Regions from separate parts of the Homo sapiens genome. Here all the other regions are linked to region 2. The links come from fine-mapping of genetic effects on gene expression. A gene starts in region 2. Each other region holds a variant in brackets. All regions are shown on one strand. Distances are between the middles of the regions.

Region 1 (7,139 bases), 440 kb before region 2:
AAATAGGAAAAGAAGTCAGACTATCTCCCTTCACTGACAACATGATTCTATACCTAGAAAACTCTAAAGACTTCGCCAGTATGCTCCTAAAACTGATAAATGATGTTAACAAAATTTCAGGATACAAAATCAATGTACACAACTTAGTAGCATTTCTAAACACCAGTAACATTCTAGCTGACAGCCAAGTTAAGAGCATAATCCCACTTATAATAACCACTAATAAAATGATTATTGGGAGTACCACTAAACAAGGAGGTGAAAGATCTCTGCAAGGAGAACTGCAAAACACTGCTGAAAGAAATCAGAGCCAATACAAATAAATGGAAAAACATGTCATGCCCATGGATTGGAAGAATCAATATTGTTAAAATGGCATACTGCCCAAAGCAATGTACAGATTCAATGCTATTACCATCAAATTACAAGTATCATTTTTCACAGAATTAGAAAAAACAATCCTGAGATTCATACAGAACCAAAACAGAGCCTGAATAGTCAAAACAATCCAAAGCAAAAAGAGCAAAACTGGAGGCATCATGTTACCCAACTTCAAACTATACTATAAGGCTACAATAACCCAAAGAGCATGATAGTAGTACAAAAACAGACACATAGACTGAGGGAACAGAATAGAGAACCCAGAAATAAAGTTGCACACCTACAATTATCTGGTCTTTGACAAAGTTGACAAAAACGACCAATAGGAAAGGACTCCCTGTTCAGTAAAAGTGCTGGAATATACTGGCTAGCCATATGCAGAAGATTGAAACTGGTGAAACCCTACCTTTCATCACACATAAAAATTGATTCAAAATGGATTAAAGACTTAAGACCTCAAACTATAAAATTCTAGAAATAAATCGAGGAAATACCCTACTCAACATCAGCTAAGGCAGATAATTTATGGCTAAATCTTTAAAAGCAATTGCAACAAAAACAGTAATCAACAATAGGACCTAATTAAACTAAAGAGGTTTGCATAGCAAAAGAAACTATCAACAGAGAAATTAGACAATCTACAGAATACGAGAAAATGTTAGTAAAGTATGCATCTGACAAAGGTGTAATAATCCAGAATCTATAAGAAATTTAGGCCAGGTGTGGTGGCTCACACCTGTAATCCCAGCAATTTGGGAGGCCAAGGTGGGTGGATCACCTGAGGTCAGAAGTTCGAGACCAACCTGGCCAACATGGTGAAACCCCATCTCTACTAAAAATACAAAAGTTAGCCAGGTGTGGTAGCACGCACCTGTAGTCCCAGCTACTCAGGAGGCTGAGGCAGGAGAATCACTTGAACCTGGGAGGTAGAGACTGCAGTGAGCTGAGATTGCACCATTGCACTCCAGCCTGGGCAACAAAAGCGAAACCCCATCTCAAAAAAAAAAAAAAAAAAAAAAAGAAGCAGCAGCAGCAGCTTAAACAAATCAGCAAGCAATAAACAAATAACCCCATTAAAAAGAGGCAAAGGACATGAACAGACACTTCACAGAAGAGGACATACAAGCGGCCTACAAACATATGAAAAAATGATCATCATCACTAATCATTAGAGAAATGCAAATTAAAACCACAATGAGACACCATCTCTCACCAGTCAGAATGGCTATTATTAGTCATAAAACAACAGATGGTGGCAAGGCTGCAGAGAAAAGAGAATGCTTATACCCTGTTGGTGGGAATGTAAATTAGTTCAGCCACTATAAAAAGCAGTTTGGAGATTTCTGAAAGAACTTAAAACAGAACTATGATTCAATCTGAAAATCTCATTTCTGGATATATATCTGAAGGAAAATAAATCACTCTACCAAAAAGCACGTGCACTCGTATGCTCATCACAGCACTATTCACAATAGCAAAGACATGGAATCAACCTAGGTGTCCATTGACAGTGGATTGTATAAGGAAAATGTGGTACATATACACCATGGAATACTACACAGCCATAAAAAAGAATGAAATCATGTTGTTTGCAACAACATGGAGGCAGCTGGTGGCCATTATCCTAAGTGAATTAACATAGGAACAGTGAACCAAATACTGCATGTACTCACTTACAAGTGGGAGCTAAGCATTGAGTACGCATGGACGTAATAATGAGAACAATAGATACTGGGAACTACTAGAAGGGGGAGGGAGGGAGGAAGGGAAATGTCAGCTGAAAAACTACCTATTGGGTACTATGCTCTCTTCCTAGGTGACAGAATGATCTGCACTACAAACCTCAGCATCATGAAATTTACCCATGTAACAAACCTGCATATGTACCCACTGAATCTAGAATAAAAGTTGAAATTGCTGTCTAAAAAAGCTCTTTGTTTCATTGACTTTGTCTATATATTTTTGTTTCCTATTTCATTAATTTCTACTTTGATTGCTATTGTTTCTTTTTTCTACTTAGTTGGGTTTTAATTTCTTCTTTTTCTTGTTTCTTAATATGGAAGCTGAGTTCATTAATTTGAGGCATTTCTTCTTTTTTATATAGTCATGCAGTGCTTTAAACTTTCCTTTAAATATTGCTTTAGTGGTATACAACAGATTCTGGTATGGTAATTTTTCACATTTATTCAGTTCAAAACACTTTCTAATTTCCCTTCAAATTTCCTCTTTGATTCATTGATTATTTAGAATGTGTTAATTTCCAAATACTTGGGAATTTTCCAGAAATCATTATACTATTAGTTTCCATGTGAGAAGAAACATTTTTAATGACTTAAACCCTTAAATTTATTGAGACATTTTATGGCCAAAAATATGATCTATCTTGGCAAATTTTCCATGTACACTTAAAAAGAATATGTAATCTGTTGTCGTTGGATGGAATGTTGTTAAAATGTACATCAAATAAATGCGGACAATAATTTGATTCAAGTCTTTATTTATTTATTTAGTTTTGAGAAGGTGTCTCGGTCTCTGTCGGCCAGGCTGGAGTGCAGTGGCGCGGGTGCAACCTCCGCCTCCCGGGTTCAAGCGATTCTCCTCTCTCAGCCTCCTGCGAAGCTGGGATTACAGTCATGTGCCACCATGCCCGGCTATATATATATATAGTTTTTTGAGACAGAGTTTCGCTTTTGTCCCCCAGGCTGGAGTGCAGTGGCGCGATCTTGGCTCACTGCAACCTCCGCCTCCTGGGTTCAAGAGATTCTCCTGCCTCAGCCTCCCGAGTAGCTGGGATTACAGGCATACACCACCATGCCCCTCTAATTTTTGTATTCTTAGTTTCGTCAAGTTGGCCAGACTGGTCTTGAACTCCAGACCTCAGGTGATCCACCTGACTCGCCTCGCAAAGTGCTGGGATTACAGGCATGAGTCACCATCCCCAGTCTGGTTGAAG[T/A]CTGTTATATGCTTGCTGATATTTTTTGTCTATTATCATATCAATTATTGAAAAAGGAGTATCTAACCTTTGATGATAATTATGATTTTGTCTACTTCTCCTGTAGTTCTATCAGGTTTGCTTTGTATATTTTAAAGCTCTGATAATCAAGGCATAAATATTATGGATTTTCATTCTCTCTTGATGAACTGACCTCTAACCAAGTAAACTTTTTTATTCCTGTTAGTAATGTTTGTTCTGAAATCTATTAGTCTGAAATTAGTACAGCCACTCCTGCTTTTCTTTGATTAATATTGGCATGATATATCTTTTTTTATCCTTTTACTTTTAACCTATTTTTTTGTCTTTAAACCGAGTATATTCCTTTTAGCTGACATAACATTTGGGCTCGCTATTTTACATCATTTAACAATTTCTTTTGGGTGTTTAAAACATTTACATTTAATGAAATTCTGATTAATTATACTTAAGTCTGTCATCTTGATATTTGTTTTCAATTTGTCTCCTTTGATCTATTTCCTATTTCTTTTTCCTCCTTTTTTTTTTTTTTTTTTAGACGGAGTCTCGCTCTGTCGCCCAGGCTGGAGTGCAGTGGCCGATCTCTGCTCACTGCAAGCTCCGCCTCCCAGGTTGATGCCATTCTCCTGCCTCAGCCTCCCAAGTAGCTGGGACTACAGGCACCTGCCACCATGCCTGGCTAATTTTTTGTATTTTTTAGTAGAGACAGGGTTTCACCATGTTAGCCAGGATGGTCTCGATCTCTTGACCTTGTGATCTGCCTGCCTTGGCCTCCCAAAGTGCTGGGATTACAGGTGTGAGCCACCGTGCCCGGCCTCCTGAAGAATTTTTTAAATGTTTTCTCTACTGAAATTCTGTTTGTGATTAATTCTGATTTAAGATGTCTGAAAACATTATTATTTCATCTGTACTTTTAAATGATATTTTCACTGGGTGTAGAATGCTAGGCTGACAGATTTTTTTGTATACTTCAAAAATGTTACTCCACAGTCTTCTTACTTGTATTATTTCTTATGACAAATATTCTATCATTCTTTGTTTCTCTGTACATAATTATCTATGCTTTTGTTAGATATTTTATTTTCGTTTTGTCACAGGGTTTATGCATTTTTTATTATGATGTGCCTTGGTGAAGTTTTTTTGTTTGTTTCTTGTATTCAGAGTTCTTTAGCTTTTGGATCTATTGTTTTACATTTTTCATTAGCTTTGAAAATGTTAAGCATTATTTTTTCAAATATGTTTTCTGCTCCAACCTCTACCCCACTCCCACACACTGTTAAGGGATTTAATACACGCGTATTAGGCGCTAGAAATTATCTCCCAGCAACCTAATGCTCTGCTCTGCCCTTTCCCTCCCGTCCCCTCCCCTCTCTTACTTTCCGCTTCTCTTCCCCCTGCCTTCTTTCCTTTCTATTACTTTCTGTTCTTTCTCCTTCTCTTTTCCTTCTTTTTTTTTTTTTTGAGACAGAGTCTCACTCTGTCGCCCAGGCTGGAGTGCAGTGGCACGATCTCGGCTCACTGCAAGCTCCACCTCCCGGGTTCATGCCATTCTCCTGCCTCAGCCTCCCAAGTACTACAGGTGCCCGCCACCACGCCCGGCTAATTTTTTGTATTTATTAGTAGAGATGGGATTTCACCTAGATAGCCAGGATGGTCTCGATCTCCTGACTTCGTGATCCACCCGCCTCGGCCTCCCAAAGTGCTGGGATTACAGGCGTGGGCCACCGCGCCTGGCCTCTTTTCCTTCTTTCTTGCTTGCCTTCCTTCTTTTATTTTACTTTTCTTTCTTCTTCCCTTTCTTTCTTTTCCTTTTAAAATTATATTCTCTCGGGGCTTCATTTTTAATAGTGACTCTTGTTATATCTCCAGGTTCACTAGTCTTTCCTTCTGGGTGTCCAATCTGCCATTAATACCTTACAGTGTATTTTTAATTTTATCTTTTGTCATTTACATTTCTAAAAGTGTACTTTGGTGTTTTTTTTTTGTCTTCTACATCTCTATGTAACTTTTAAAATATATAAATGTGTTTTGAACACATTAATTATCTTAATGTCTACATCTTCTAATTCTAACCTCTGAGTTGGTTTTGATTATTATTCTCCCCATTATGGGTCATATTTTTGTAACTCTTTGCATGCCTGCTGATCTTTGATTGAAAGCCAGACATTGTTCATTTTACCTTGGTCGATACTAAATAGGTTTGTGCTCCTATGAGTTTTATTATGAGATATGTTTAAGTTTCATAGAAACAGTGTGACGTTTCTGTTATTGTTTTTATGATAGGCAATATTAAAGAATTTCTCATTCTGGGGCTTAATTATTTCCCACTATGAAGGCAAGAGTTTCTGAATATCCTACTGAAAGCCTCACTGAACTATGATCTTTTCCAGCCTTGATGTTGGGAAAGGGCACTGTTCCTTGCTGTGTGTGAGCACTGGGAAGTGTTTTCTCTAATCAGTTTGGATGTTTCTTTCCTTGGACCCTCTGGTAGCTCCTCACACTTGTGCTTTGATCTGAACTCTGCTGAGTCCTCAAGCAAGATCCTCTGTAGATCTCTGAGTTCTTTCTTGATGCAGCCTACTCTTCTCTTGTACTCTCCTCTGAACTCTGTTTGCCTTTTTCTTCTCTGGCTTTCAGCTTTATATATCTTTAATCCATGGAGTTTACTAGCCTCATCCTCAGTTCCCCTTCCCTGTGTGTGGCCTGGAAACATTCTAAACTTGGTAAGCTAGGGCGATTATAGAGCTCACCTTGCTTGTTTTCCATCTCTCAGGAATCACTGTCCTTGATTACTTGATAGCCAGTGTTTTAAAAACTATTGCTTTATATATGTATATCCTTTTGTTTGTTTTAATTTGGAAGGTGAATTGAGTCCTTGTTACTCTATTGTGGCTATAAGAAAAAGTTCAAGATAACTATTTTGTAATTAGGTATTTAAGCTTCTCTTTCTGTTAGGGCTACTGATATCATTGAACAAAGATAAGTTGAACTGAGAGTATCCCTGGGGAAAAAAATTGTACTTCAATACTGAAAGATGGATTCTTGACTTTGTGTCTGGTAGTTTCTATTTCAAAGTTGATGACAGAGCTATCTTCTTTAGCCAAGCTGATAGTGCCTGTGAGTCATTGCCCATTCGCCCTTACTATTTCTGTCTTCAATCCTTATAGACACTGGTGCATTATTTTCTTAAACCTTAGATTCAGAGGCAATTGCCATGATCTGATCTATCCTGGGGATAACTCTTTCTATTAGTTCATATACTGCTTTTTGATCCCAACTATATCATTTAAATCAGGGCTACAACTTCAGCTCTTGGCCTGAGGGCTGTTATGTGCATGCTGTGATCTAAGACTAATTTTTACATTTTAAAAGGGTTATTAAAAATATGTGCAGCAAAGACTGAAAGTGGACTGCAAAATCTAAAATGGTTACCCTCTCTCCCTTTTCAGAAGATATTTACTGACTCCTGATGTAAATAAACTATTGTTCATGCATGCATTTCTGTAATGAGAAATAAATATGATAGTTAAGCACAAGGGCTCTGAAGTTGAACTGAGTTCAAATCCCAGTTAATTACTGAACATTTCTGTTGTCTAAGGCAAGCTATGTACCCTCTTAATGCCTTGAAGTTCTCAACTGAAAGAGGAATACCACTAATAGCTACCTCAGAGATATTTGAGGATTTAATGGAATGATGTTTATAAAGTCCTTCACAATGTGCCTAGAATTTGGTAAGAGTTCAAGAAATGTTAGCTACTCATATATTTGTTTAATTTTTTTTATCTTC
Region 2 (7,139 bases):
ATATTAAATGGGCAAAAGCTCAAAGAATTCCCCTTGAAGACTGACACAAGACAAGGATAACCTCTCTCACTACACCTTTTCAACATAGTATTAGAAGTTTTGGCCTGGGCAATCAGGCAAGGGAAAGAAATAAAGCATATTCAAAGAGGAAGAGAGGAAGTAAAATTGTCTTTGTTTGCAGATGACATGATTCTATATTTGGAAAGTCCCATCATCTCAGCCCAAAAGCTTCTTAAGCTGAGAAGCAACTTCAGCAAAGTCTCAGGTTACAAAATCAATTTGCAAAAATCACTAGCATTCCTACACACCAGCAACAGGCAAGCAGAGAGCCAAATCACAATTGCTACAAAGAGAACAAAATACCTAGGAATACAGCTAACAAGAAAAGTGAAGGGCTTCCTCAAGGAGAAGTACAAACCACTGCTCAAAGAAATCAGAGAAGACACAAACAAATGGAAAAACATTCCATGCTTATGCATAGGAAGAATCAAGATCTTGAAAATGGCCGTACTTCCCAATGCAACTTACAGATTCAATAGAAAAATACCTATTTTAAAATTTATATGGAATAAAATTTATATGGAATAAAAAAGAGCCTGAATAGCCTGAATAATATTAAGCAAAAACAGCAAAGCCAGAGGCATCACACTACCCAATTTCAAACTATACTACAAGGCTACAGTAACCAAAACAGCATGGTACCAGTGCAACAACAGACACATAGACCAATGGAACAGATTAGAGAATTCAGAAATAAGACCACACACCTACAACCATCTGATCTTTGACAAACCTGACAAAAATGAGCAATGGGAAAGGATTCCCCTGTAAATAGTGCTGGGAGAACTGGCTAGCCATATGCAGAAAATTGAAACTGGGACCCTTCCTTATATCATATACAAAAATCAACTCAAGATGGATTAAAGACTTTAGTGTAAAACCCAAAACTATAAAAACCATAGAAGAAAACCTAAGCAATAACATTCAGGATATAGACACAGGCAAATATTTCATGACGAAGATGCCAAAAGCAATTGTAAGAAAAGGAAAGATTGACAAATGGGATCTAATTAAACTAAAGATCTTCTGCACAGCAAGAGAAACTATCAACAGAGTAAACAACCTACAGAATGGGATAAAATTTTTGTAATTCATGCATCTGATAATGATCTAATATCCAGCACTTATAAGGAACTTAAACAAATTTACAAAAAAAAAAGACCTCATTAAAAAGTAAGCAAAGGACATGAAAAGACATTTCTCAAAAGAAGACATACATGTGGCCAACAATTATATGAAAAAAAGCTCAATATCACTGATCATTAGAGAAATGCAGATCAAAACCACAATGAGACACCATCCCACACCAGTCAGATGGCTATTATTAAAAAGTCAAAAAATAATAGATGTTGGCAAGGTTGTGTTGAAAAAGGAATGCTTTTACGTTGTTGGTGGGAGTGTAAATTAGGTCAACCATTGTGGAAGACAGTATGGCAATTTCTCAAAGACCTAGAGACAGCACTACTATTCGACCCAGCAATCCAATTACTGGGCGTATACCCAAAGCAATATAAATTGTTCTATAATAACTACACACGCACACATATGTTCATTGCAGCACTATTCACAATAGCAAAGACACAAAATCAACCTAAATGCCCATCAACGATAGACTGGATAAAGAAAATGTGGTACATATACACCATGGAATACTATGCAGCCATAAAAAGGAACAAGATCATGTCCTTTGCAGAGACATATATGGAACTAGATGCCATTATTCTTACCAAACTATCACAGGAATGGAAAATCAAATACCACATGTTCTCACTTGTAAGTGAGAGCTAAATGATGAGAACACATAGATACCTAGAGGGAAATAACAAAAACGGGGGCCTACCAAACAGCAGAGGGTGAAAGGAGGGAGAGAATTTAAAAAATAATGGATACTAGGCATAATACTTGAGTGATAAAATAATCTGTACAATAAATCTCCATGACATGTGTTTACCTATGTAACAAATCTACAAATCCTGCACATGTATCTCTGAACTTAAAAGTTAAAAAAAGCAAATGAACATAACTTAATCCCTATTCCTCTCTATATGAAAATTGTGAAATAACTGTGACAATGCAGCAACATTTTCACAAGAAATTGTTCAAGGCCTTGGAGCATAGAATATGTAATATTTGTGAAGAAAGTGTCATAATTATATACAGAAAATATTTATTGGAAGTTCTCCTTGTGCAATTAAAATTCTAAAGATGTAAAAATCAAGTATTTCATATTAATAAAATATTAAAGTACTATGAACTTACCATAAATTTGACTCTGATTTGGCAATTACCTAAAGAAAATACAAGATATGTCTTGTAAACTAAATGATTCATCATTGAAAATAAATGTTAACACATTGTTTAACATCACTAGTTTTCTAGCTCCTTCTTTCAACATAAAATAAGCTTTAATGTAACTTATAAATGTATTCAATTAAAGAGTAACATTAAGGTGGAAAATATCATACATATGTTCACCTTGCTACTAAAACACAATACATAGAATATGTTGAGGTCTCCACTGTAGAATACGCAAGTCAATAAAATCAGCAAATAAAATTGACAAAAGGTGACTATTTCTCATTAAAAAAAGAAAATCATTTACACTTTGTCTTAAAGTTTTAAAGCAGGATATTCCAGTTTTAAGACAAAGAAATGACAAATATGTATACATATATATATATATGCGGGCAAGTGTTCTTTTGACATTAAAAGACCTAGGACAGGCTGAGCTCAGTGGCTCACAACTATAATCCAAGCACTTTGAAAGACCAAGGCAGGTAGATTGTTTGACCCCAAAATTTTGAGACCAGCCTTGGCAACACGGTGTAACTCTGTCTCTACAAAAAATTCAAAAATTAGTCAGGTATAATGGCACATGCCTGTGGTCCCAGCTGCTTGGGAGGCTGATGTGAGAGGATCGCCAGAGTTTGGGAAGCTGAGGCTGCAGTGAGCTATGATCATGCCACTGCACTCCAGCCTGAGCAACAGAGTGAGACCTTGTCTCAATAAATAAATAAATAAATAAATAAATAAATAAATAACCTAGCACAAATTATTTTAAGAGTGTGTGTGTATGTGTGTATATATAAATATTTTTTACAAATATCCTCCAGTAGTATGAAGTTGATTAGTACAATGGAGGAACAACATTTAACAGCTGTCTTATGCCTTAAGGGACATAAATCTTGATTGTCCATTCATAGATATTGTATTTAAAGGAACAATAACTTTACTCTATTCAATTTAGTAGCAACTTCTCCAGAATGGATTGCAGTCAGAAACTGTCAGATCTCTTTTGGGTGAGAACTTTGGAACGTTAAAAATTCTGTCTCTTAAAAATGAATGATGGTCAGGTAGTTGGATGCAGTAATTAGGATTTCTGTTTATTATAAGTAGAGATAATTTTTCTGGGTTGTCTACTAGTTTAGTTATAGAACAAGTCTTCTCTTCCTCTGTGTTGATTGGAACCTTGGCAGATACACCTTCACTGATTTTACTGAAATTTACTGTTCCACTAAAGTAAGGGTAAAAAGAGAAGGAACAGAATAGAAAACTTTCAGTCTTCAGATTTAATGCTACCAACTCATTAGCAGACCCAGTTTTCAGAGTTACTAGAGGAGTAGAGATGTCTACAGATTTCTGACTAATGTCATCATTAGTTTTCTTTTTAAATTATGCTGTGGAGGAAAGTTAGTTATTTTACATAAGAGAGAAAGGGTTTGCTCTGAGAGAAGCAGCATATAACTTTCCACCTCTATATTTTAATGTACCTTTTGAGTAGGGTTAGGAGCAGTGTTGGTGATATGGGTGGGAAGCAGGGAAATACTGGGCAGAAGAGGGCTGTCCCAAGCAAGAGCCACACATCCTCAAGCCTGGGATCACAGACCAAAATGAGAACATGCATTTCCTGCTTTCCCACTCACATGTTGCTTTTTGGCCCACCCCACACCCCATCCTCTACCCATAAAAACCACAGGCCCCATCACCAGAGTGGCAGAGCAGCAGAGCAGCGGAATAGCAGAGTGACAGAGAAAGAAAGAAAAGAAGAAGCAGCCGGATGTCAGAGAGAAGCAGTTTGAGCTCAGAGGGACAGCTTGATGGTGGGACCTCGGAGAAGAGTTTGTCTGAACTCCAGGGGAATACCACCTTCCCATTCCATCCACTTTCCAGCTCCCTATCCCGCTGAGAGCCACTTCCATCCCTCAATAAAATCCTCCACATTCACTACCCTTCAATTTGTTTGCATGACCTGATTCTTCCTGGACGCTAAACAAGAACTGAGGTACCAAGAAGGCAGGTCCAAAAGGCTGTCACCCTGACCCTCCACTGAGCTGTTAAATACTTGTCATCTGTGGATAGAAAAGCTAAAAGAGCACACTGTAACACTCACCCTCTGGGGCTTGAGGGGTCATGGGAACTCCCCTAGATGTTGCCATGGGGCAGCACAGAGTTCTACTCCTGCTGGCACACAGAAGCCCTCATCCTGATCCCTACACCCACTCACCTGTGAGTTTCCCCTCCCATGAGGGGTTGAGAGCTGTGGGCTGAGTAAACAAGCCAACCCCTTTGCAACTCCTGCAAAGAGGCCAGGGAAGTACCCCATTTCATCAACACTCTTGGCAGGTGCCAATGTCCTCTCATCTTTTCTGCTTTTGCAAGAAAAAAAAGAAATTGATTTTTTATGTAGATTTGAAAACTTCTAGGTTTTAACTCCAAAATATTGTTTATATCTCCAAATTTAGCACAAATGGAGTTGTACCAGTCTCTCTCATTCTGGAGTAGGTTTTAGAAGATTAGTCAATGCACCTTCAGCCATGCTCAGTGCACTGTGTGCCTGATGCTTCATTCCTAGGTGAGACTTTGGCCTAGGTGAGTAGTCATTCCAGCTCTCAGTACATACTTTCTTTTCATTGTATTTGAAGGTTTAGGATTGAATTTGTAGTCATCTATAAAATGGATGATTCTTTATACAAGAAGTAGTTGCAATTTTATCAATCCCTTCCAAAGGAGTAAAGAGAGCATCATTACACTGTGCCTTTTGCCTTTTTTTTTTTCCTTTTCTATGTTTGGGTTGATTTAATTTTGGGTTCAATATTGATGAAACAATTAGAGTAATTTCCTTGGAACACCTTCATGATCAGTTTTACATACCTGATAATTTGATCATCTGCCAACTTCCATGACAACATCATTACTTTTGGAAACATCTCTTACATTGATCTCTGTTCTCCTAACCCCATTGTTCATATTATTTCCTGTGTTAATTGGATACTTATTTCATTTCATAATTCTCTTTATTTGAACCCAACAACTTCGAGATTCTTACACAATTGACTACCATCTCTTCGTTGTTTATATGATGTACCATAACATGTGGTTCTCCATCTGTCTTTATAGTTTCTTGTTTTACTCCTTGGAGTTTTGTGAGAAATCTCTAGCACCACTGTCATGGACTTAGGATCTTTTTTTGGAGGGGGCCATATTTATCCTATCTCTTGGCATTGCACTCAGTTCATTTTTATCTATATCTCTTCAATTCTGGATTAAGTGTCTATTCCAAATTGTAGTGATGCTATAGCTTCATTAGACATTTTTGGGCAATCAGAGATAGAGGTTTCACTTGTCAGTATGAGGCAGAGCACTGTTCATAATTTCAGCAACACTTTGGGAATTCACTACGTAAGAAGGTCCTACCCCTTGGATGTAGGCAAGTTCATGTTGCACGCTTTGGGAATGTAGGTTCAAAGGCAATAGATCTTTTGTCTTCTTAGGTGAATCTGATGGCAAGAGTTTGAAATATGCAGTTTGGGCATTATACCGAACCTCATAAAAGTCAGATAAGGCTTTCTTGTTAGATGTGTTGCAGGAGCACTTGCAGTTTGCTCCTGCTTTTTGTCATTTGGAAAAAACAACCTAATTTTAAAACTGTCAAGTGAAGTGTGATGGCTAATTTTATATGTCAACTTGATTGAGATAAGGTATACTCAGCAGGGAAAGCATTATCTCTGGATGTGTCTATGAGGGCCAGTGTGACAGAGCTCATATTTTATAAAAATATGTTTTTTCTGTGATCTGATATTTCATGCAAATGAATCAACATTATTTTAACAAAGCTGTATTTTAGTTCTATTCTCTTTTGTTTGCAGAAAACTGATAAGAGAAGTACAATCATATTGGGCTTTAGATCTTAGCCTCCTGCCAAGGAAATTATGGAATCTTTGTGAATTGTGGTTGGTTACATAGTTTCTAAGCCAGAGATTGTTTCCTCTTCTTACCTATGTAGGAAGTACAAGCTTCCTAGTATTCTCTTCTGCAAGCTAGAGAACCAGGAAAGCCAGTGTTGTAATCTAGTCTGAGTCGAAAGCCTTAGAACCAGGAAATGTCTTCCTGACCAATACATGAAGTATTATTAAAATATGCCTAAATAAAACAAAGCATAATTCTCAGTGTAAGGCCAAAGGTCTGGGAAACTGGGGAACTCCAATGTCTGAGAGTAGAAAGAAATGGATGCCCTAGCTTTAGAAGAGAATAAATTTACCCTACCTGACTTTTTGCTCTGTTTGGGTAAGACCTGCACGGATTGGATGATGCCTGCCAACATTGGTGAAGGTAGATCATCTTTACACAGCTTAGTGATTCCAACATCAATCTCTTTCAGAAAAGCCCTCATAGACACATCCAGAGATAATGCTTTCCCTGCTGAGTATACCTTATCTCAGTCAAGTTGACATATAAAATTAGCCATCACACTTCACTTGACAGTTTTAAAGTGTTTTCAAAATGACTATTACTTAAAACAGAAAGCCAATCATCTTTTACATAATTGAGACCCACCCTGAAGAATAAGAGATAGCTGTAATATATTTACAGTTCACTGCCTTTCAAAGTGTTTATTCAGAATTATACTAGAAGTAATTTCATGAAAATAATATTGTGCAACCTTTTCATTCTATTTCAATGAAAAGCAGGCATGAACATTACTCAAGCTTGAAATTTTACTGAAAAGTAAACATTTCAATTAAGCTTAAGGAAAAAAGAAATTTCCTGAGATTTCCAGTGTATACAGAAGTGTCTTTCCA
Region 3 (7,139 bases), 22 kb after region 2:
ATAAATGTAATCCATTACATAAGCAGAACCAATGACAAAAACCACATGATGATCTCAACAGATGCAGAAAAGGCCTTTGATAAAATTGAACACCCCTTCATGATAAAAACACACAATAGACTAGGTATTGATGGAACATACATTAAAATAATAAAAGCTATTTATGACAAACTCATAGCGAATATCATACTGAGTGGCCAAAAGCTGGAAGCATTCCCTTTGTAAACTGGCACAAGGCAAGGATGCCCTCTCTCACCACTCCTATTCAATATAGTATTGGAAGTTCTAGTCAGGGCAATCAGGTAAAAGAAAGAAAGAAAGAAAGTGTATTCAACAGGAAGAGAGGAAGTCAAATTATCTCTGTTTGCAGATGACAGAATTGTATATTTAGAAAACCCCATTGTCTCATCCCCTTAAAACTTATTAAGCTGATAAGCAACTTCAGCAAATTCTCAGGATACGAAATCAATGTGCAAAAATCACAAGCATTCCTATACACCAATAACAGACAAACAGAGAGCCAAATCATGAGTGAACTCCCATTCACAATTGCTACTAAGAGAATAAAATACCTAAGAATACAACTTACAAGAGATGTGAAGGACCTCTTCAAGGAGAACTACAAATCACTGCTCAAGGAAATAAGAGATGACACAAACAAATGGAAAATCATTCCATGCTCATAGATAGGAAGAATCAATATTATGAAAATAGTCATATAGCTCAAAGTAATTTATAGATTGAATGCTATTCCCATCAAGCTACCATTGACTTTCTTCACAGAATTAAAAAAAAAAAAACTTTAAATTTCATATGGAACCAAAAAAGAGCCTGTATAGCCAAGACAATCCTAAGCAAAAAGAACTAAGCTGGAGGCATCATGCTACCTGACTTCAAATTAAACTATAAGGCTACAGTAACCAAAACAGCATGGTGTTGGTACCAAAACAGATATATTGACCAATGGACAGAACAGAGGCCTCAGAAATAACACCCAACATCTACAACCATCTGATCTTTGACAAACCTGACAAAAACAAGCAATGGGGGAAAGGATTCCCTATTTAATAAATGGTGTTGAGAAAACTGGCTAGCCATATGCAGAAAACTGAAGCTGGACCCCTTCCTTACACCTTACACAAAAATTAGCTCAAGATGGATTAAAGACTTAAACATAAGACCTAAAACCATAAAAACCTGAGAACAAAACCTAGGCAATACCATTCAGGACACAGGCATGGGCAAAGGTTTTATGATTAAAACACCAAAAGCAATTGCAACAAAAGCAAAAATTGACAAGCGGGATCTAATTTAACTAAAGAGCTTCTGCACAAAAAAAAAAAAAAAAAAACAAACACAAAAAACAAACTATCATCAGAGTGAACAGGCAACCTACAGAATGGGAGACAAATTTTGCAATCTATCCGTTTGACAAACAGCTAATATCTAGAATCTACAAGGAACTTAAAAAAATTTACAAGAATAAAACAAAAAACCCTATCAAAAAATGGGCAAAAGATATGAACAGACACTTCACAAAAGAAGACATTTATGTGGCCAACAAATATATGATAAAAAGCTCATCATAACTGATCATTAGAGAAATTCAAATCAAAACAACAATGAGATACCATCTCATGCCAGTTACAATGACAATCATTAAAAAGTCAGGAAACAACAGACGCTGAAGAGGATGTAGAGAAATAGGAACACTTTTACACTGTTGGTGGGAGTGTAAATTAGTTCAACCATTTTGGAAAATACAGTGTGGCAATTCCTCAAGGATCTATAACCAGAAATACTGGGTCTATACCCAAAGGATTATAAATCATTCTACTATAAAGACACATGCACTCGTATGTTTATTGTGGCACTATTCACAATAGCAAAGACTTGGAACCAACCCAAATGCTCATCAATGATAGACTGGATAAAGAAAATGTGGCACATATACACCATGGAATACTATACAGCCATAAAGAAGAATGAGTTCATATTCTTTGCAGGGAGACAAATGAAACTGGAAACCATCATTCTCATCAAACTAACACAGGAACAGAAAACCAAATACTGCAGGTTCTCACTCATATGTGGGAGCTGAACAATGAGAACACATGGATGCAGGGAGCGGAACATCACACACTGAGGCGTGTTGAGGGTTGGGGGGCAACGGGAGGGATAGCATTAGGAGAAATACCTAATATAGATGATGGGTTGATAGGTGCATCAAACCACCATGGCACGTGTATACCTATGTAACGAACCTGCGGGTTCTGCACATTTATCCCAGAACTTAAAGTATAATTTAAAAAAAAAGTTAGGGACCAGAGCTATAACTACAAAGCTCTATTAGGAATTTTTATAACTAAAGCCAATCTAAATAACTCGATTTAAATGGGGAAATACCACACTTGAATAGTTAACTAACAATCTAAATGTTAAATAAAACATAAAAATGATATAAAGTAATACATAATAACACATTTAAAAAAAGAAAGAAAGAAAATGACCAGATTAGAAGATGGCTCCAGCTATTGGCTCCACACAAGAAATCATTTCCAAAGTGCTAGCTGAAAGGAAGAGAAACACATAATGGATAATAAAGGAAAACAGTCATAAGTGTCAATTTCATATGCTTACTGTAAAAAAAAGAGCTATAAATTTAAATTATATTTCAGAATACATTCCCTTGATTAATACTGAGGTACTTACAGAGTACAGAAATTGTCTCTTTCCAATTTTTTCTTTCTTAAATAGTTACAATTAGTTGACTTAAATCTCTGAAATAAAAAAATTATTTTTGCTTCATAAATGTATAAAGTATATTATCTGTGGTTTCAAAATGCCAAAAGATAATAAGCAAAAGATTTGCAAATGAATAGAAATTATTTAGAGTGTTATATGGAGTGCTCCAAGTATTGCTGACTCTTAAGTTACGTAAGCAGTATTTGAAGGGTCTCTCTGAAATTACTTCAGAATGTAGTAACAGGGGGTAGATTTTAGGTTGATATCCAGATTGGCATGAGGTTTGGGGGAAGTGCTTTTGTAGTTTTCTATGTCTTCGCTTGGTCTA[T/AT]ATTAGATGCACTGCAAGCATGTTTTGAAGTACAAGATAATTTTTATAGCTAATTGCTTTTAGGGTACAATCACTAAACGGAGTTTGTTTTCTAGGAAGATGGGCTACATATGCTAAAAAAAACAAGGGCCAGAACATGCTCAAATAGCTAGGAAGAAAGAACAGGCTGCCTGTGATGTTATACAGCCACTTAGTAGTTTTGTGTACTTTAAACCATCTGTTTTGCTATTTTTCATGAAACAAGGTTGTTGTGGAGGTAAAATTAACCATGTTCCTAGATCGGACAAGAGACTATTTTTCAGTTTACTATTTTTTTTAATTTTTGCATCAATATTCTTAAGGAATAGTGGTCTGTCTTCTACCTTCTGAAGACTCTGATCATCTCACTAAACTTGGAATAATGTGAACCCTATTTACATAATTAAAATTTTTGGTGCCACTTAAAAAGTTATTGGAGTGTAACTCAGTTAGTGAGACAATATATTAAAAGCTGTAAAGAATAACAAAATTATTCAGATTCTTCCTCTTCTTTTTACAAGTATAATTCTCTCTAGATGAATAAAGATTACAGTTCACTTACCGCTTAAAGCAGCAACCATTCCACACACTATGATTGTCAGAAACATGATTAAGAAAAATAAGCGCCAAATTAAGGTAGCTTTAATAGAATGCTCTTTTGAATGCAGACAACCTGGAAAAAATTATTGAAAAACATTTTAACAATTAAATACAGACATAATACTGCCAGAAACATTAAGCATCAAAATGTTATTTTTATTTAATTCCTTCGCTTTTCACTAGAGGATGCAAATGACCTGTCATCTTATGAACTTACTATTCTATCTCCAGAATTTAATCATTTTCCAAAGTTAAAAGAATTGATTTTAACTTTCCAGCTACCATATTCAAGTTACCCTTTCAATTGGAGAGATTCATGTCAACTAAACCACAGGAATGAAATCAACAAAATCCAAGTAACTGGAAATTCAACATAGCAAATTATTCTGATTCCTGTCTAAAAATGTAAAGAAATATTTTTAAATGATATTAAGAGGAAATCTATCGATTAAAATAGACTTAAAAGGCATTGTTTTGGAGGAAAAAAGGCAAAACTGGAGTGATAAAGTGATTATTGTAGAGGTCAAATTAGTGTTATTCTTGGAAGGATAGGAGAGTGAATAGTTAAGAATACATGGAGGGCCTCTGAGCCACATAACAAGGATCTTTCTTAGACAATGTTAGCAGTTGTATTAGTCCATCCTCACTGCTATGAAGAACTGCCCAAGACTGGATAATTTAAAAAGGAAAGAAGTTTAACTGACTCACAATTCTACATGGCTGGGGAGGCCTCAGGAAACTTACAATAATGGTGGAAGAGGAAGCAAACGTGTTCTTCTTCACATGGCAGCAGGAGACAGAAGTGCCTAACAAAGGGGTAAAAGCCCCTTATAAAACCATCAGATATCATGAAAACTCACTCGCTATCACAAGAACAGCACGAGGGTAACCAACTCCATGATTCAGTTATCTCCCACTGGGTCCCTCCCATGACAAGTGGGGATTATGAGAACTACAATTCAAGATGAGATTTGGGTAAAGACACAGCTAGGCCATATCAGGAGTCAACAAAGGTGTTTATCTTATAATAATTAATCAAGCTACATATTTGTATTGTATAATTTCCTGTAGTTGTGTTATATTTCAAAATGTCTTAGGTTATCTAAAACCTCTTATGAAGTTCATTATTGGAACCCTGTTCTGACACAATCTCTTGCATACAATTCACACCTCTAGTTAATTTATCTAGGTTTGTCCTTAGCTAAATAGGCATATTTTTCTCCAACATTCCCCCCAACACTAGAGAGATCAGCAAGCTTTACATTGATGTTTCCCAAGATATTTGTCTTAATCAATAGATTTTAGTTTTTATCAGTTTAAGTTGACAGAAATACTGAATTAAAAATATAGAGTTCACATATGCCCCTGTACCCCCTTTATCAAAGATTTAAGAAATCATAAGAGAATCCAGAGGAAAATAAATTCTACATGTAGAGAAACAAAGATAAAAATGACATTTACATTCTTCTCAAAAACCATGCAAGCAAGAAGACAGTGGAAACAAATATTTAAAGTATTAAGAGAAAAAACCTTATCAACTTAGAATTCTTTAGCCAAAAAAATTCTTCAAAGTGAATGAGAAACAACCACTATTTTGGAGAAACATTGAGATAACTTGTTGCCAGTAGACTTGTCTTATATCAAAAAACAAAAAAGTTAAATGCAATTATTTTAAAAGGAAAGAGAATTATACAGGTTAGAAACCTAAATTATATGAAAAAGGAACAATATAAAAAATAAGTGAAGGTAAAATAAAACTATTTTTCTTATTCTTAATTGATCTAACAAATGGCAGTTTGTTCAAAATAACAATAGTAGCAATATATTTAATTATGTGTGCTTATGTATACATCTTTTATATATATTTATATGCTTATGTATTCTTACATGTAAATAAAATAAATAACAGAAATGACACATGGGATAAAAGCAGAGAATTAGATTTTTTTATTATAAGGTACTCACAGTACCTGTGAAATGGTATAGTATTATTTGAAAGCAAACTTATGTTAGTTGTGAGTGTATATTGCAAACACTAGGGTAACCACTAAAATCACATTTTTAAAGTATAATTGATATACTAAGAATGAGAAAATATGGAACTTTATAAATGCTAAGTTAAAAACTAAAAATGCAGGAAAAAAATGGAAGACATGGCTGGGTGTTGTAGCTTACACTTATAATCCCAACCCTTTGAGACACTGAGGCAGGAGGATCATTTGAGGCCAGAAGTTCAAGACCAGCCTGGGCAACGTAGCAAAGACTCTGTCGCTACAAAAATTAAATAAAAATTAGCCAGGCTTTGTGGCACATGCCCGTAATACCAGGTACTCAGGGCTCAGGTAGGAGAATCACTTGAGCCTAGGATTTCAAGGGTACAGGGAGCTATGATTATACCACCACACTCTAGCCTAATGAACAGAATGAGACTCAGTCTCTGAAAAGAAGAGAATGAAAAACAAAAATAGAAACAAAGAACAAAGGCAACAAATAGAAAACAGAAAGAAATATGGTAGATATTTAATCCACCTATATTAATAATCATTTTAATATCAATGATCTAAATGCACCAATTAAAAATCAGAGATTAAACTATATGATGTCTGCAGGAAATGCACTTTAAATATAAAGACACACAAATTAAAAGTAAATGGATCATGAATATATATATGTATTATATCATACTGGCACAAACAAAAGAAAGCAGGAGAAGCTATACAAATTTCAAACAGAACAAACCTCAAAGCAAGGAAATTTATCAGGAATGAAGAAAAGCATTGCATAATGGTATAAGAATTAGCTTTCCAAGAAACTATGTTATGTTTCCGCATAACAAACCTAAATGTGCACGCACCTAACAAGAGAGTATTTAACTACGTGAGGCAAAAATTAACAGAACTGCAAGGAGAAATCGATGAATTCATTATCATAGTTGGAGATTTCAACAACACTCTATTGGAAATGCACAGATCCAGCAGGGTATATTGGCTCATGACTGTAATCTCAGCACTTTGGGAGGCCCAAAAGGCTGGATTATTTGATCTCAGGAGTTCAAGACCAACCTGAGCAATGTGGTAAAATCTGTCTCTACAAAAAGACAAAAATGAGCCAAGTGTGGTGGTATTTGCCGGTATTCCCAGCTACTCAGGAGACTGAGGTGGGAGGATTGCTTGAACTCGGGAAGCAGTGGTTGAAATGAGATGAGATTGCATTACTGCACTCCAGTCTGGGTGACAGAGCGAGACTCTGTCTCAAAAACAACAAAATAAAAAAAAAAAAAAAAAAAAAGAAAGAAAGAAATGCCCAGATCCAGCAGGCAGAAAATCAGTAGAACTTAGGTGAACTCAGCAACATCATCAATTAACCGAATATAATTGACATCTATAGACTACTTTGTCAAACAACAGCAGAATACACACTCTCAAGATTACATGGAATAATCACCATA

Evidence for each region. PIP is the estimated chance that this variant, and not a neighbour inherited with it, causes the effect. A credible set is the group of variants that fine-mapping cannot tell apart.
Region 1: its variant is the best candidate, but not a certain one, in a credible set for the expression of LINC02390 in whole blood (GTEx, PIP 0.64).
Region 3: its variant is the best candidate, but not a certain one, in a credible set for the expression of LINC02390 in T cells (TOPMed, PIP 0.75).

The regions. Positions count from the first base shown.
Region 1 is chr12:10,142,719-10,149,857 of GRCh38, reverse strand. No RefSeq gene overlaps it. Among named protein-coding and RNA genes, the nearest start is that of CLEC7A, 16 kb to the right of the region's middle. The variant T/A (reference allele first, on the strand shown) is at 3,335.
Region 2 is chr12:9,699,338-9,706,476 of GRCh38, reverse strand. It overlaps LINC02390 (long intergenic non-protein coding RNA 2390), which reads right to left and starts at 3,093. Exons shown (of 2, transcript XR_931347.3): 1 at 2,320-3,093. It overlaps CLEC2D (C-type lectin domain family 2 member D), which reads right to left. Exons shown (of 5, transcript NM_013269.6): 5 at 6,924-7,139. It also overlaps a transcript of CLECL1 not described here. RefSeq lists an enhancer at 4,256-4,305.
Region 3 is chr12:9,677,548-9,684,686 of GRCh38, reverse strand. It overlaps CLEC2D (C-type lectin domain family 2 member D), which reads right to left. Exons shown (of 5, transcript NM_013269.6): 2 at 3,654-3,764. Among named protein-coding and RNA genes, the nearest start is that of CLEC2D, 11 kb to the right of the region's middle. The variant T/AT (reference allele first, on the strand shown) is at 3,074.